Linked DNA regions of Homo sapiens: region 1 is linked to region 2. Evidence: fine-mapped expression QTL. A gene starts in region 2. The other region holds a variant in brackets. All regions are shown on one strand. Distances are from middle to middle.

Region 1 (4,396 bases), 860 kb before region 2:
GGGAGGCAGAGCTTATAATGAGCGGAGATCACGCCACTGCACTCCAGCCTGGGTGACAGAGCGAGACTCCATCTCAGGAAAAAAAAAAAAAAAAAGAAAAGAAACAGCAGCCATTTGGCTCCAGCCTAGTGTAGCCAAACAGGAGTGAGGGCTCAATATTGCCAGATCTTCTGATATTTCAAGAGAAGCTGAAAAATTTGGACTTCAAAAAATATGAAACCTTTCAATTTTTAAATGCTGGCAATTAAAATTTTAAAAGAACACCTCTGTGTGCCAGATCCAGCCCATCAGTTTGAGACCTTGGCTCTAAAGTGATGGTTTCCAAATCCTCTAAGTCTGTGTAACCCATCTGTGCTGATTCTCCTTCTTATTGCTAGTGCACCAAGAAGAGAGGTTACATCAATACAAATGGCACAGATCAAATCACTTTGACTACTGTATTTCAAAATTTTGTGTTTTGTGAATATTAAAAAACTGCCAAATCAATAATGAAAATGACCATATGTCAGTGATACAAATATCTCCTACATGTGAAACACATGTTTAATTAACAATATTGTCACTACTATGGTACAAATACTCAAATTTAGCCCAGTTCACGTATGTGTTAAGAATTATGTGTTCAAGCTTGTGTTCCAAATAATTCTGTAAACTAAAAGGCAGCCAAATGGAATAATTCTAAGTTTCTGAATAATAAAGTTTATCTATGATAAATACTGTATTAAAAGGGGACACACCATCACTTAAAAGAACAAAATAGGCCGGGCATGGTGGCTCACGCCTGTAATCCCAGCACTTTGGGAGGCCAAAGCAGGCGGATCACTTGAGGTAAGGAGTTCGAGACCAGCCTGGCCAACATGGTGAAACCCCGTCTCCACTAAAAATACAAAAATTAGCTAGGCATGGTGGCACGCATCTGTAATCCCAGCTACTTGGGAGGCTGAGGCAGGAGAATCGCTTGAACCTGGGAGGTACAGATTGCAGTGAGCCGAGATTGCACCACTGCACTCCAGCCTGGGCGACAGAGTGAGACTCCGTCTCAAAAAAAATAAAAAATAAAAGAACAAGATATCCTCATGTGGAAACAGCAAAGCCCATTTTACTAAACTATTCAATTATTCCAAACAAACGTTTTAAAAATAGAGTGTGAAACGCACAGTTTACATTTATTTTCATTTTAGGGCCTTCGGGTCCCAGGGACAGCTGCATCCATGGCAATTACTGAATACTTTATTTGCACATGCTTATATGGAAGTGGCATAAATCATAGGCTCAAAGAATAGAGTAGAGATGGGGACTTGGAACTGTACCCCTGCATCCATACCTGTCTACTGAATACTGGGCAATGTAATTGAGAAAAGCAAAGCAATTTTCAGTTTCCTTGTCTGCAAAAGAGAAAATAATCTAGGCATGTCCCACCCTTGAAGAATATCAAACCCAAAAGGTATTTTTTTGTTGTTTTTGTGCTCACCACTACATTCCTGCCCTGGCCCATAGTAGGGCTGAATGAATGAATAAAAGAAAGGAAGAAAGAACACCAGATGCAGTTGTGTAATCCTATATATTTCTGTTACATGGAAACAGAATTTAACAGATTTGGCCGGGCGCAGTGGCTCACGCCTGTAATCCCAGCACTTTGGGAGGCCAAGGAGGGCGGATCGCTTGAGGCCAGGAGTTTGAGACCAGCCTAGCCAACATGATGAAACCCTGTCTCTACTAAAATTACAAAAATTAGCCAGGCATGTTGATGTAGAGACGCTTGTAATCCCAGGTATTTGGGAGGCTGAGGCAGGAGAATTGCTTGAACCTGGGAGACGGAGGTTGCACTGAGCCAGATCGCACCACTGCACTTGCACCACTGCACTCCAGCCTGAGCGACAAAGCAAGACTCCATAAAAAAAAATAAATCAATAAAAAATTTAAAAAAATAAAAAAAACAGAATTTAGCAGATTCTATTCAACTGACACACCTGAGAAACTCAGTGCTTTAAAAGAAAACCCAAGGATACCAAGTTTTGGTCAATGTAAAGATGTCACTGGGGTGTGCTTGGTATCATAAAACCACTTGAAATGTGTGCTTGAAAAACTTCGATTTAAATGTTCCACTTTAAGAACACAGCCCTTTTACACATGGTTTCTATCAAAGTTTTCTGCTGATGAAGCTGATTGAATTTGCAGATTGCTATGGAATTACTAAGGGCAAACAATGCATATGCATAGTCAGGTCTCACCTAGCTGGCATTTCCAGCTGATGAGAGGATGTCTTTGTATCTCCTTAAAGAATCTTTATATCTTTCTCTCTCCCTTCTTTATATCTCCTTAAAGAATCTAGCCTCTTCTGTGGGAAAATAAAAATAAGAGCTGGGAAAGGGCACAGAGCTAAAATCTCTGCTCTTTCAATAGGGTTCACCCTTAGAGGAGGGTGACAGAGAGTCACAGCCTCCTACTTGAGCCAAAGCAGTTCAGCTTTGGTTTTCTCTATTGGGGTTAGATCTAAAGATTTGTATTTTTTGAAGATAGGTTTCTATCATTTTTTTTAAGTTTGAAAACAACCATTATAGGTAAAGGCTATGAATGAGAGCTATGGCAGGATTTAGACCCAGAAATGAAGATTCCATCTCCA[G/A]CAGCAGAGGGAAGCTGCTGAAAGCTTGTATCACCGAGCTTGCTTCAAGCCCGAGGGCCTTGGAAGGACTTCCGACTACCACCATAATTGATGAAATGGATAAAATTCAGGTTTAGCATTTCTAAAAGTTTGTCCTATGCTTTTTACTCTTTAAGGTTTAATACATTTAGGTATTTGAAGATATATATTTTAAAACCTGGGGAGAATTCTGTAGCAAGTAGACATAACAAAGGCAATTCTTGTCACCTGCTGAGCATGTACCCTAACTGAAATCTAAGTACCTACACTGACCATGTGGCTGCATGCAGGGGTGGGCAGGGTGAAGGTGAAGGCAAAAACGCAGCAACCTTTTGAGGGATGAAATGGCAAAGCCTGACAGGTATGGTGCTGGCAAAGGTTACATTCCCTCTTGTGAGCGCACAGAGACCGGGGCACCAAAAAGGAGGGACCATTACTGTATCGTGCCTGGATGAGCCTTCTCTTAGATTCCTTCATTATTTTCAAAGGTCAATGTCCCTCTCTCAAAGAGAAAATTGAGGAACCCTGAGTCATCACAGAGTATAAACAAGCCACTGTGGCTAAATGAAGAGGACAGAGAACGCTTATCCAGTATAAGCATTCTTACACTGGCTTCCCACAGGTTGTTCTGAACTTGAGGGCAAATCAGAAGAAAATCTCCTGGACCCTATTAATGTCACCGAGCAGAAGCACTCTTTGGCCTTCTATCACCAGATTTTGCAATGCCAGTCCTGCACCTTGGCTCCTTCCACCCAGGGAGAAAGATTCCTAATAGCTGATCAGGTCAGCCTAACCTTCTCGTGGCTGGCAGCAGGAGTCTCCTCTGTCCCATCCCAGCATTTGCTCCATGCAGCTTTCCTGCTCCCTACTGTTCGTGCAACGACATGAGCAGATCTTTACTTTAAAGCAGACATTCAAATAGTTCTGTTGTGCCTGGCAAATTCCCTTTTCATATGCCCAAGTTGAAAGCAAATGAGATTTTCCCTTGAAAAGACATTGCCCCCGAGAGCTAATATTTAGGGTAAGCAGTGACATTGGTTGAGTCAATTAAAATGAACCTTCTGAAACCTCCTGGTACAAATAAAGCCCTTTGTACAATGCCGCCCCTAATACCACAACTTAGAAGGTTGGAGATCAGTGTAAGAATTTGTGGCAATTAGTAAAACTTACCTCACGCTGGATGTGTGGCAGATAGGATGTATTCGGCAAAGGCTGGATATGGTTGAAAACAACTTCCAAGGTGCCTAAGTTAGGGAAAAAAATGAGAATCAAGAGGCAAAGTTACCTTTTTAGAAGCAAAGTTCTGAATTCTAAAAAAATAAAGTCAACTTCCTATGAAATGGCTCATGGTAACACATTCTACTTTGTATTTACAACCCTTAGAGTTAAAGGAAAACTGCCAAGATGTTCTGCATACTTCTCCAAATGTCTGTTTATCATATAACATGAGCACTGGCAGTGGATCTGGCTCCCTCATTATCAAGCCGTATTAGCTCAAACACTCAGCATTGTTAGGGGAGTGAGCTCATGGCCTATTTCAGTTTTAAATTAACATTTGGCAATCACCCGGGTAATCAAAACAAATGACTCAGTCGTTTAGAATAGATTTATTAGTTGAGCCTTTTTTTTTCTCTCTCTCTCTTTTAACATCTTTAGAATATTTTGCCACAGGAGGGCTCTGATCCAGCCAGAATGTAGAGCACAAGTCACTAGAGGAATATTTAGAGGGGTTGCCATGGAGACGAGGTGCCCTGT
Region 2 (4,396 bases):
TGAGGGGAGATGTTGGTCAAAGAATACAAAATTTCAGTTAGAAAGGAGAAACAAGTTCAACAGATCTGTTGTTAAACATGTTAACTACAGCTAGTAACTAACTGTATTGTATTCTTGAAAACTGATAAAAGAGTAGATTTTAAGTGTTCTCACCATACACAAAAAAATGATAAGCATATAATGTAATGATAAGCATATAATTAGCTTAATTTAGCCATTTCACAATGTATACACATTTCAAAGCATGATGTTGGACATGACACAATTTTTATTTATCAATGAAAAATGAATTAATTTAAAAGATCAGGCCATTTCCCACTGTGGGTTAGAGTCTACACCCAGCTCTCCTTCCTGACTGCCTTACAGCTGTCAGCTGCTGATTGCACCCTCAGAGTCTCAGCCTTCTTCACCATGCTTTGCTGGCTCACTTCTCAGTTCATTCACTCTTCTCAGCGATTTTGTCTACTGCCATGTGTTACAAGGCCTGAAATTCCATGTGCTGCCTTGGCATAATTGAGCCTCACAGGGCATCAAAGGCCTAGCCACGATTTTCCCTGCTCTCATCAGATATGCTCCCTACCAAGTGGGAAAAGCTCACCCAGCTACATCCCCTATCAGCCAGATCAGCTGCATATCCCCTGGTATTCAACCAAAAAGACTGATTCTCTACCAGCTGGTACAGCCACTGTTTGATCCTGAACTGCAGCAAAATAGTAACCAACAGAGGAGTATCCAGGCAGCTTTCCCACCAAGAGTGCACCCAAGAGGCCCCTCTACCTGGATGTCCTCTAAACCCTCCCCTTCCAACCTACAGTCAGTTGCATCCTCTGAGGAGAGGCTTGTGGTTCTATTTTGGCAATGCTGAATCAGAGCAGGGAAAGCAAAGTTGACAGGGACAGGGAGGAGAGTTAAATGGACATAGAGGAGTTAAATTTTCTATCTAATACAGATCCAGAAGAGACCTGGCTAAGGGTAGAGAGAATAACAGCCCCTTAGATGTAGGTGGGGGAGGGGACACAGGAAGGGGACTTGGGAAATGCTGGACAGGTTGTGAGAGCACAGGGAATTGGGAAGGAGAGGTGGAGGGGACAGAAGGACTGCTTGCAGGCTTATTTTGCAGCTTACGTTAAAGGACAAGAGAAATGCTTGGAATTTGTTATGGTTTTAATGGTTCCTTTTATGTTAATTTCATCTTATTCCTAACTTAAGCTTGCCCATATCCACCATGGCTCTGACCTCTTTGCTCTCCCTGTCCCCTCTTCAGCTTTAGCTCTCACTTCTCAGTCACCAATTGTGCACATAGTTCCCATTTCAGGTTTCTTGGAGTATCTGACTTGCTCAGGATATTTCTTAGGGACAGAGGTTTTTCAATGGGAACCATCTCATATGTCTTGTTGGACTATTGGGTGGCTTCACTTCAGGAAAATTAATTATCTTTGATTGGCTGTGGCCTGAAGGTTTGTTTGACATGACACAAAAAAGCCATCAGGGCATTCCACTTTCCTGGGGACACTGAATAGAGCAGTTGCCCCTGGAAGGCTCTGTGGACATGACATCTGCAATGATGAAACATGTCCCAAACCCCCGGCCCAGCTGTTGGTCTGCTCTTAAACGATGTCTTTTCATTAGGACAGGCATTAGGTTTTAGAGAGAAACACCAGGGTGGTCTCTTCAAAATGGCTAGGGATTAGAGTCTTTGGTCCTTGAATGCCAAGTACTACATCACTTCGACTTCGCAGTGTTTTTCAGATTGATGGGGGAGATCTGGTGTGCAGCATGATCTCACTCTCTGCTCTGTGTCTGAGCACCCCTGCACTGTGCGTTAGGATGAACAAAAGCCCCTTCCAGTGTAACCCAAGTAAGCCCTGTCAGCAAACACACATCCAACCCAAAGGAGTGAAATGACAGACTCTGTTTTAATGGCTCAAACATGGGAGGAGTTTATTGTTCTAATTATAATTAATGTCTCAAAATTCTGGGCAGGCCTCAGCACATAAGCCACATGACTTTTTGTCCAAGGCCATGTTCACCCTGGAGTTGCTTTATGGCAGCATCCATAGCCACTTTGACAGGTCAGTGTCACTTCTGTTCCTGCCCAGTTGTCTGTTGATTAAAAAGACCTGCACATTTTTGGTGGGCTTCTTGCATTTGAAGGATTTGCCTGACTTCTTGATGTTCAGTGCAGGCTCACTGGGACTGGCTTTAGGGAGTTCTTTATCCATGAAGCAGCAGCCCCAAACAACCTCAGTAAAACAGCACAACCAAGGAAGCCTGAAAAAGATGATGAATTCCATGTAATCAAGTGGATCTGGGGACCTCTTCCCCACTGCCACACACCCACACACACTTTGGGCCATCATCTGATTTGAAATGCCAACCATATCATTTATTCAATCTGTCTCACACATGGGGCTGTGTAGGAGCCTGATGGGACCCGGGACATTAAGGACACACTGTTGTATCAATCTGATCATCACCTGACACACACAGACCTGTTAGATTGTACTCAAAGTGCTAGCTTATAGCTCAAGTGTCGACGTAATTCTTACATTCGCATTAATTTTAACTCAATTCTATGTTGCTGTTTTGCAGAGCTGCCTTCTTTTCACCTCTGAGTTTTCCCTGTACTTGGGATAGGGGCTTTCTTCTACTGCATTTTGTGCAGCAAGTTGAGAGAGTAGGTCTCTTTGGTAAATCTATCCATAACAAAATTCATTATTTTACATCTGTATTTCTTCATTCTACAACCTACAGGCTGCTATAATTTGTTTCCTCATTCCAAATCTCTTTATGTTACTTTAGCTTCAAATAGGATTTGCCTTCTTTGAAAATCACTGGTGACGCAGGTATGGATCTTACTCCAAACCCTTGTGTAAGAAATAAACTGGACATTCTCAGGTGCTACCTAGTTTCTGTTTCTAAGGCCCATCCTTCTGAGTTTCCATCCTGGGAACATAATCTCAGTTATTTAAAGATTGTACTCGCCTCTGATAACTGACCCAGTCTCACCCCAAAAAGTGCTGAGTGGTATTATACTTGAATCTGGCATAATGCCAAGGCTAGGGGTGGATGCCAACTGTGTTCTCTATTTTGACCTCAAGAGAGATTAAAGGACTTGCCCAAGTGATAGAAAGGTGAGATTGGAACTGAAAAAAGCCTGTATCTGAAGCCTGTGTTTTTACCCACTGCTCTATAGTTTCTCTGTATCAGTTTGAACAAATGACTCTCCCATACCTTCCCCCCCATTACCAAACAGGGTTGAGGTTTATCAGGTAGATTAGTTAGGTTATGGCACAAAAGGATGCTCTATGATCTTGGTATATCAGAATATTTTACCTGTCAGACCACTCAGGTTTCTTTTGAAGAAAGACCTGGACCAGAGAGTAAACAGTGAGAGGAAACATGACTTCTTTCCTTAGCACACTCTCTCTTTTTCCCTGAGTCCCAGGGCCTGATTGGTTCAGAACCAAGTGAAGTCACGGTTACTATGATTACTCACGACTGCTCTCAGAACGTAATGCCAACAGTCTGCAAGATTCAAATACTGACAACCATCACCTGGCTTCCTTCTGGTTCAGAGCAGAATAGGGTAAGTGGAAGTTGCTGGGAGAGGAAGTAGGTATATCTTGTGGCTGGGTGCCATCTACATGTCTCCTTCCTGGATGGGACATTCAGCTATCCTGGCCTCAGAGCTTGTCCCTGGCTTGTGCAAAATCCCTTCATTAAAATTTATCCTTTGTGTAGATTACAGCACCCACTGCATCTTGCCAGGTTCCCTGGGTAGTGATCAGCGACTTTGTCTGCCATGTTCCAATCAGGGAATTAGTGTTAGGTTGAATTTCCCATTTGCTTGTCAATCTCTGCATCCAGTTTTGGTCATGACTCTGCAATTACTCCCTCTATAATACACAGTTCATGTAAATGGAGTGTTTAGTTGCAGAAATTTAACACTGCAGTTAAACACTGCTGTGTCTCACACAACTGTGTGACCCCCTCCCAAAGCTCAGAGCAGTGGAACTCCACACTTTTATTCTGTGGACCTGGGATGCAGGTGGGCTTTTAATGCCTTGGAAAATCTTATGCTAAAACTAGACTAGTTTGTTGAGACATATGCATATGTCTCAAGCCATATTCCCTTTCAAGTATCTGATCTAGAATAACTACATTGTTACCATTAAAGTGTGACGCAGGTGGGTAGTGTCTATATGCAGGACATGGATTTTCCAGGCTGTCAGAGGGATAACGGTGAGGACAGGGCTTTGTGATTTTTATAGTGGGGTTCTCATGAGGAACTAAAATGACTGTTATGAGGAGATGTGGCTTGCCTGCACACTGGCTGCCCACTCAATCTTATGTAAGAACTGAGGAAATTGAGGTTCCTGTAAAGCGACCCAGG

Which allele goes with the higher level. Alleles are on the strand shown, and positions count from the first base shown. SD is a standard deviation of normalised expression in the study named.
As copies of G replace A in region 1, the expression in subcutaneous fat of the gene that starts at base 2,222 in region 2 goes down (large effect, 0.81 SD a copy in GTEx).

Evidence for each region. PIP is the estimated chance that this variant, and not a neighbour inherited with it, causes the effect.
Region 1: its variant is fine-mapped to the expression of ETDC in subcutaneous fat (GTEx, PIP above 0.99).

Annotation. Positions count from the first base shown.
Region 1 is chrX:136,169,396-136,173,791 of GRCh38, reverse strand. It overlaps a transcript of FHL1 not described here. Among named protein-coding and RNA genes, the nearest start is that of FHL1, 25 kb to the left of the region's middle. The variant G/A (reference allele first, on the strand shown) is at 2,624.
Region 2 is chrX:135,307,306-135,311,701 of GRCh38, reverse strand. ETDC (embryonic testis differentiation homolog C) reads right to left here and starts at 2,222. Exons shown (of 1, transcript NM_001358449.1): 1 at 2,043-2,222. The coding sequence starts at 2,222. The coding sequence ends at 2,043. The region is part of intron 1 of ZNF75D (zinc finger protein 75D); the gene reads left to right.